Regions from separate parts of the Homo sapiens genome. Here all the other regions are linked to region 3. The links come from fine-mapping of genetic effects on gene expression. A gene starts in region 3. Each other region holds a variant in brackets. All regions are shown on one strand. Distances are from middle to middle.

Region 1 (2,673 bases), 21 kb after region 3:
TCGTGGCGGGTGCCTGTAATCCCAGCTACTCTGGAGGCTGAGGCAGGAGAATCGCTTGAACGCTGAAGGCGGAGGTTGCAGTGAGCCGAGATCGTGCCACTGCACTCCAGCCTGGGAGACAGAGCGAGACTCCGTCTCAAAACAAACGAACAAACAAAAAACAAACACAAAAAGAAAACAAACAAACAAAAAAACAAAAAGACTGGCTGGCGGGAAGGGTGACTCGGGCCTTTGCTCCCGAGCCAGAGCCCCCAACCCTGACCTGATCCCCCTCTCTGCGCAGGTGGAGTTCTACTTCCTTTCCCAGTACGTGTCGCCAGCCGACTCCCCGTTCCGCCACATCTTCATGGGCCGTGGAGACCACACGCTGGGCGCCCTGCTGGACCACCTGCGGCTGCTGCGCTCCAACAGCTCCGGGACCCCCGGGGCCACCTCCTCCACTGGCTTCCAGGAGAGCCGTTTCCGGCGTCAGCTAGCCCTGCTCACCTGGACGCTGCAAGGGGCAGCCAATGCGCTTAGCGGGGATGTCTGGAACATTGATAACAACTTCTGAGGCCCTGGGGATCCTCACATCCCCGTCCCCCAGTCAAGAGCTCCTCTGCTCCTCGCTTGAATGATTCAGGGTCAGGGAGGTGGCTCAGAGTCCACCTCTCATTGCTGATCAATTTCTCATTACCCCTACACATCTCTCCACGGAGCCCAGACCCCAGCACAGATATCCACACACCCCAGCCCTGCAGTGTAGCTGACCCTAATGTGACGGTCATACTGTCGGTTAATCAGAGAGTAGCATCCCTTCAATCACAGCCCCTTCCCCTTTCTGGGGTCCTCCATACCTAGAGACCACTCTGGGAGGTTTGCTAGGCCCTGGGACCTGGCCAGCTCTGTTAGTGGGAGAGATCGCTGGCACCATAGCCTTATGGCCAACAGGTGGTCTGTGGTGAAAGGGGCGTGGAGTTTCAATATCAATAAACCACCTGATATCAATAAGCCACCTGTTGACATCTGTTATTGATAAGCGCCTTCATGCTTCTTCCTCACCCTCATGCCCATCCCATCCCATCATCCCTTCCTAGAGACCTAGGGAATTGGGCAGAAGGGACCAGAGAGGGTGCACACAGGAATGCTGTCTCCACGGGGAAAACCGAGCTGTTTCTATCACTCAAGGAAAATGCCTAAGGAAATACTGAAGGCCCCTTCTCCAAAGACCACCATAAAGCAG[G/A]TGGTCTTTGGAGAAGGGGCCTTCGGTATCTTTTTTTATTTTTGAGACGGAGTCTCACTCTGTAACCCAAGCTGGAGTGCAGTGACACAATCTCGGCCCACTGCAACCTCCACCTCCCGGGCTCAAGCGATTCTCCTGCCTCAGCCTCCTGAGTAGCTGGGACTACAGGTGTGCACCACCACGCCCGGCTAAATGTTTTCGTATTTTAGTAGAGACGGGGGTTTCACCATGTTGCCCAGGGTGGTCTTGAACTCCTGAGCTCGGGCAATCTGCCTACCTCAACCTCCCAAAGTGCTGGGATTACAGGCATGAGCCACCACACCTGGCCAGTATCTTGTCCTGGGATGAGGAATGGTTACATAATTTGCAAGACCTGCTGCAAAATGAAAATGCAGGACCCCTTGTTCAAAAGCAGAAACAAGCTGGGCACGGTGGCTCATGTCTGTAACCCCAGTGCTTTGGGAGGATGAGGCGGGAAGGTCATGTAAAGCCAGGAGTTCAAGACCAGCCTGGACAACACAGGGGAGAACCTGTCTCTACAAAAACTAAAAAACTTTAGTTGGGCATAGTGGTGTGTACTGTACTCCCAGATACTCAGGAGGCTGAGGCAAGGCAGGGATAATTTGAGCCCAGGAATTTCAGGCTGCAGTGAGTTATGATCGAGCCACTACACTCCAGTCTGGGTGACAGAATGAGACCTTGTCTCAAAAAAAAAAAAAAAAAAGGAACAAAGCTTTTTTTTGTTTTTGTTTTCTACAATTTCTCAACCTGTCATGGTATTCTTTTATTTGATATTTAATGTTGCACTCCTTTGGATATGGGGACACACTTTCAAAACATAAATTCATGCTTGAACCCGGGAGGCAGAGGTTGCAGTGAGCCGAGATCATGCCACTGCACTCCAGCCTGGGTGACAGAGCAAGACTCTGTCTCAGGGTAACAAAAATTATTAGGAATTTCAAGGTTGGCACAGTGGCTCACGCCTGTAATCCCAGTACTTTGGGAAGCCAAGGCAGGCAGATTGCTTGAGCATAGGCGTTCCGGAGCAGCCTGGGCAATATGGTGAAATCTTATCTCTACAAAAAGTAAAAAAATTGCTGGGTGCGCTGGCTCACGCCTGTAATCCCAGCACTTTGGGAGGCCGAGGCAGGTGGATCACGAGGTCGGGAGATCGAGACCATCCTGGCTAACACGGTGAAACCCCGTCTCTACTAAAAATACAAAAAATTAGGTGGGCGTGGTGGCGGGCGCCTGTAATCCCAGCTACTCGGGAGGCTAAGGCAGGAGAATGGCGTGAACCCGAGGGGCGGAGCTTGCAGTGAGCCAAGATCGCACCACTGCACTCCAGCCTGGGCAACAGAGCGAGACTCTGTCTCAAAAAAAAAAAAAAAAAAAAATTAGCCAGGTGTGGTGGCGTGCACCTGTAGTCCCACCTACTCTAGGGTGCTGAG
Region 2 (2,673 bases), 140 kb after region 3:
TCGCCTCCCGGGTTCAAGAGATTCTCCTGCCTCAGCCTCCCGAGTAGCTGGGACTACAGGTGCCCGCCACCACGTCCGGCTAATTTTTTGTATTTTGTTTAGTAGAGATGGGGTTTCACTGTGTTAGCCGGGATGGTCTTGATCTCCTGACCTTGTGATCTGCCCGCCTCAGCCTCCCAAAGTGCTGGGATTACAAGTGTGAGCCACCACGCCCGGCCCTTTTTTTTTTTTTTTTTAAGACAGGTTCTTGCTCTGTTGCCCAAGCTGGAGGGCAGTGGTGCAATCATAGCTCTCTGCAGTGTTGATTTCCTTGGGCTTAAGTGATCCTTACACCTCAGCCTCCTGAGTAGCTGGGACTACAGGCACATGCCACTATGCCTAGCCTTTTTTTTTTCTTTTAACTTTTTGTAGAGACAAGGTCTTGCTATGTTGCCCAGGCTGATCTGGAACTCCTGGGCTCAAGTCATCCTCCTGCCTGGGCCTCCCAAAGTGCTGGGATTACAGGTGTGAGCCACTGTGCTTGACCCCACAAGCCTTCCTTCTCCCTCGCTCCACGATAGCTGTTTGTCCTGAAGGTTTTCCTTTTGTATTTTTGTATTTATTTTTACTTTTATTTTTTTGAGATGGAGTCTCGCTCTGGCCCCCAGGCTGGAGTGCAGTAGCACAATCTCTGCTCACTGCAACCTCCACCTCCTGGGTTCAAGTGATTTGCCTGCCTCAGACTCCAGAGTAGCTTGGACTACAGGTACTCACCACTATGCCTGGCTAATTTTTGTATTTTTAGTGGAGACAGAGTTTCACCATGTTGGCCAGGCTGCTCTCGAACTCCTGACCTCAGGTGATCCATGCGCCTCAGCCTCCCAAAGTGGTGGGATTACTGGTGTGAGCCACCACGGCCAGCCAAGGTCTTCCCTTTTTAAGTGACTCAAAATACTTTAGTGTTATCAACTGATCCAATATAGGTTCTATAATTTCTTGTTAATGTTACTCCTATTTATTTTAAGGTTTTTATTGCTCTTATGAATGGGATATTTCCTTCCATTAATTTTCCTTTCCTTTTTTTTTTTAATTTTTTTGGAGACAGAGTTTTGCTCTGTTGCCCAGGCTGGAATGCAGCTACATGGTCTTGGCTCACTGTAACCTCCGTCTCCCAGATGCAAGTGATTCTCCTGCTTCAGCCTCCTCAATAGCTGGGACCTACAGGCACACACTACCATGCCCGGCTAATTTTTTTCATTTTCACTAGAGAGGATTTTGCCATGTTGTCCAGGCTGGTCTCGAACTCCCAAGTTCAGGCAATCCACCCACCTCGGCCTCCCAAAGTGCTAGGATTACAAGCGTGAGCCACTGCACCCAGCCCCTTCCATTAATTAACTTTTTTTTTTTTTTTTT[G/TTTTTTTG]AGACAGAGTCTTGCTCTGTCACCCAGGCTGGAGTGCAGTGGTGCGATCTCGGCTCACTGCAGCCTCTGCCTCCCGGGTTCAAGCAATTCTCCTGCCTTAGCCTTCTGAGTAGCTGGGATTACAGGTGCCCGCCACCACACCCAGCTAATTTTGTATTTTTAGTAGAGACAGGGTTTCACCATATTGGCCAGGCTGGTCTCGAACTTCTGATATCAAGTGATCTGCCCGCCTCGGCCTCCCAAAGTGCTGGGATTACAGGCATGAGCCACCTCACCCGGTCTAATTTTCTGGCTAGTTAAAAAGAGCTACTGCCTGTTTATATCTTGGGTTTTGTTTTTTGTTTTGTTTTGTTTTTTTCAAGTTGGGGTCTCACTCTGTTGCCCAGGCTGGAATGCAGTGAAGGGATCATAGCTCACTGCAGCTTCCAATTCCTGGGCTGAAGCGATCCACCCATCTCAGCCTCCTGAGTAGCTCCAGCTACAGGTGCTCACCACTACATCCAGCTAATTTTTATTAATTTTTTTTGTAGAGATGAAGTCTAGCTTTGTTGCCCAGGCTTGTCTCAAACTCCTGGCCTCAAGCGATCTTCTAACCTTGGCTTCCCAAAGTGCTGGGACTACAGGCATGAGCCACTGTGCCTGGCCTGTATTTCATCCCTAGCTCTTTTCTCTAGCCCTGCCCTCCTTGCAGAGGTCAGCTGTGTTGGGCTTGAGTGCCATTTCTATGTCAATTACTCCTAATGTCCATAGTCTTGTCCTGTCTCCTGAGCTATCATCATTTTACTTTTAACTTGTTTCCTAAATTTCAAATACTCACATACCACTGTCATAATTTTTCATATTCTGTACATTGCCTGTACTATTATTTATTGGCTTAACATTTTTTCTTTAAACCAGCTCATTAAAAATAACTCTAGACTTATCTTGTGTAATCACATTCATGAAATAACAAGTAGCCTTATGTATTGGTTATAACTTTTCTAATATAAGTGAAAATAAATACAAAACTATTACAGTTTAAAAAAAAATGCTCTTCTTCATAAAGTGTAAAAACATCTCTTGTGGCATCTACCACATTTTTTTTTTTTTGAGACGGGGTCTCACTCTGTTGCCCAGGCTAGAATGCAGTGAAGCAACCATGGCTCACTGCAGCCTTGACCTCCTGAGCTCAAGCGATCCTCCCACCTCAACCTCCTGAGTAACTGGGATTACAAACGTGTGCCACCAAGCCCAACTATTTTTTTTTATTATTGTTTGTAGAGATGGGGGGTTCTATGTTGC
Region 3 (2,673 bases):
AAAGGGAAACTTGGTGGGACCCTGAGCCCTCCTCTTCAGAGCTACTTGTCTTGGGGCCCTCGGAAGGGTTTGGGGACCTGCGCCCCCTGCCTGTTTAGCAGTTTATGCCTGTGACATGTTTCTGGGGTGAGGCTAACTGGCCTTTCATCAGCCTCAGAACCCAAAGAGGTAGAAACCCATGTGATCCAAGTCCTTCGGTGACCAAACGGGCCGGTGCCCAGGGAGGACCATGACTTGTCCAGGGTCACCCAGCTCTGCCCACACCTTGGCGGGGACTCTGATCACTCCTCCCCACTGACCCACATATCCCTGACCCCAGGACCCCTATCTGGGAGCTCTCGCTGGTCTCATCTGACCATGTGCTCCCACCTGTGCCCCTCCTTCTCCAGCAGCCAGCAGGAGTCTGAGAACGACCTTTCAAAAGAGACACACATGCACACCACCAGACCAGACCCCCAAGTCACACCACTGTGGTGCCTCCAGCTTAGAATGCCACTGGGGCAAGTGTCAGGACAGGGAGGACAGCTGATATGTCACAGGACCGGGGCACTGGGGGACTCTGAAGGCCAGATGAGGAAGGGGCAGATGTCTTAGGGGTGAATCTTCCACCTGGGCATGGCGGGGCTTAGGAAGGGGTCCCCAGGATCCAGGGAGGGGTAAAAGCAGGAGAGGGGAGGGGGCACCCATGTCTCTGCCCTCCCCCACTATCGGCCCCCTTCCCCCACCCCTGATGGGAACTAGGAGGCCAAAGTCCGCCCCAAGGTCAAAAAATTGATTGTTTTGCAGGGAGGAGGCAGGCGTGGGGCTGTGGAGAGATTGGCAGGGGAGAGCACAGCCCCTTGTGCTCTGGCCTGGACCCGGGGGCCACGTCTGGAAGGCTGGACTGAGGCCAGGACTGTGCCCCCACCCTTGGGGGTGGTGAGGAGCAGCCTTGGTTCAGGCTGCCTGCCAGGACTGATAAGGGGCCCTCCTAGGGCTCCCACAAACGGTTTATCGGTTTATCGCTGGGGGACAGCCTGCAGGCTTCAGGAGGGGACACAAGCATGGAGCGGCTTTGGGGTCTATTCCAGAGAGCGGTAAGACTAGTGGGATTGGGAAGACCCCTTAGGCCTTCTCTCTAAGTCCCTCAGCCCCCTCCCAAGCCCCTGAGGCTGGCCCCTCCTGGACCGTGTCCTGACCTCGCTTCTTCCCACCCCTGCCCCTCCCCCACGCCCCCACCACCATGCTCATTTGACACCCCCAAGTCACTGACCTCATTATTGCCAGATGCCTCCCCACCCCCCAGGCCTCTTGCCCCAATCTCATGCCCACCTCGCCTGCACAGCAACAACTGTCCCCAAGATCCTCTCAGACCGTCTACCAGCGTGTGGAAGGCCCCCGGAAAGGGCACCTGGAGGAGGAAGAGGAAGACGGGGAGGAGGGGGCGGAGACATTGGCCCACTTCTGCCCCATGGAGCTGAGGGGCCCTGAGCCCCTGGGCTCTAGACCCAGGCAGCCAAACCTCATTCCCTGGGCGGCAGCAGGACGGAGGGCTGCCCCCTACCTGGTCCTGACGGCCCTGCTGATCTTCACTGGGGGTGAGAGCCGTCCCCCTCCCCAGAAGTGAAGGGCTTGGGCTGGGGGAGATTTCTGGGGTCCAGAGGTGGGCATAAAGAGAATCCCCATCTTGCCACCCGCCAGCCTTCCTACTGGGCTACGTCGCCTTCCGAGGGTCCTGCCAGGCGTGCGGAGACTCTGTGTTGGTGGTCAGTGAGGATGTCAACTATGAGCCTGACCTGGATTTCCACCAGGGCAGACTCTACTGGAGCGACCTCCAGGCCATGTTCCTGCAGTTCCTGGGGGAGGGGCGCCTGGAGGACACCATCAGGTAGGGATGGCCCTGCCCCATCCTGTTCTCGAGTGTCCCTCCCCTCATCCGCTCAGACTGGGCCTCCCTGCCTCCTGGCCCAGGCCTCTGGTGTCTGGGTCCCCCTCCTGAGTCCTCCCATCTGCCTTCCTGGCCCCCCTGTTCAGCGGTCCTGGGAAGGATGGCAGGCATTCGGAGCTGAGGTTCCAGGGGACTGAGGCTCTGAGGGTGGCATATTTGGGAGGTGAGGGAGCTGACTGTCTGAGATCAGAGGGGTGCAGCATCCAGTATCAGACTGGACAGACCCAGAAAAGCCTTGAATGCCTCACCCAGGCGCCTAGATTTGGAGCAGGGAGCGCTGAGGGGTTCTGAGAAGCCGCATTCTAGGGAATCAGAAAACCAAGCAAGCAAGCCTGGGCAATACGATGAAACCCCGTCTCTACCAAAGAAAACACAAAAATTAGCTGGGGATGATGGCGAGTGCCTGTAGTCCCAGTTACTTGGGAGCTTGACGGGGGAGGATTGCCTGAGCCGGGGAGGCGGAGGTTGCAGTGAGCCGAGATTATGCCACTGCACTCCAGCCTGGGAGACAGAGCGAGACCCTGTTTCAAAAACAAAATAACGGCAGGGTGCGGTGGCTCAGGCCTGTAATCCCAGCACTTTGGGAGGCGGAGGCGGGCAGATCACTAGGTCAGGATATCGAGACCATCTTGGCTAACACGGTGAAACCCCGTCTGTACTAAAAACACAAAATATTAGCCGGGCATGGTGGCGGGCGCCTCTAGTCCCAGCTATTCGGGAGGCTGAGGCAGGAGAATGGCTTGAAC

Which allele goes with the higher level. Positions count from the first base shown, and alleles are read on the strand shown. Sizes are in standard deviations (SD) of each study's normalised expression. Not every link is listed here.
In carriers of allele G in region 2, the expression in prefrontal cortex of the gene that starts at base 1,001 in region 3 tends to be higher than with TTTTTTTG alone (large effect, 1.1 SD a copy in CommonMind).

Evidence for each region. PIP is the estimated chance that this variant, and not a neighbour inherited with it, causes the effect. A credible set is the group of variants that fine-mapping cannot tell apart.
Region 1: its variant is the best candidate, but not a certain one, in a credible set for the expression of TFR2 in whole blood (INTERVAL, PIP 0.70).
Region 2: its variant is the best candidate, but not a certain one, in a credible set for the expression of TFR2 in prefrontal cortex (CommonMind, PIP 0.63).

What each region holds. Positions count from the first base shown.
Region 1 is chr7:100,618,737-100,621,409 of GRCh38, reverse strand. TFR2 (transferrin receptor 2) reads left to right here. Exons shown (of 18, transcript NM_003227.4): 18 at 284-990. The coding sequence ends at 553. Among named protein-coding and RNA genes, the nearest start is that of MOSPD3, 7.5 kb to the right of the region's middle. The variant G/A (reference allele first, on the strand shown) is at 1,223.
Region 2 is chr7:100,496,590-100,499,262 of GRCh38, reverse strand. No RefSeq gene overlaps it. Among named protein-coding and RNA genes, the nearest start is that of NYAP1, 14 kb to the right of the region's middle. The variant G/TTTTTTTG (reference allele first, on the strand shown) is at 1,393.
Region 3 is chr7:100,639,880-100,642,552 of GRCh38, reverse strand. It overlaps TFR2 (transferrin receptor 2), which reads left to right and starts at 1,001. Exons shown (of 18, transcript NM_003227.4): 1 at 1,001-1,076; 2 at 1,325-1,577; 3 at 1,681-1,867. The coding sequence starts at 1,044.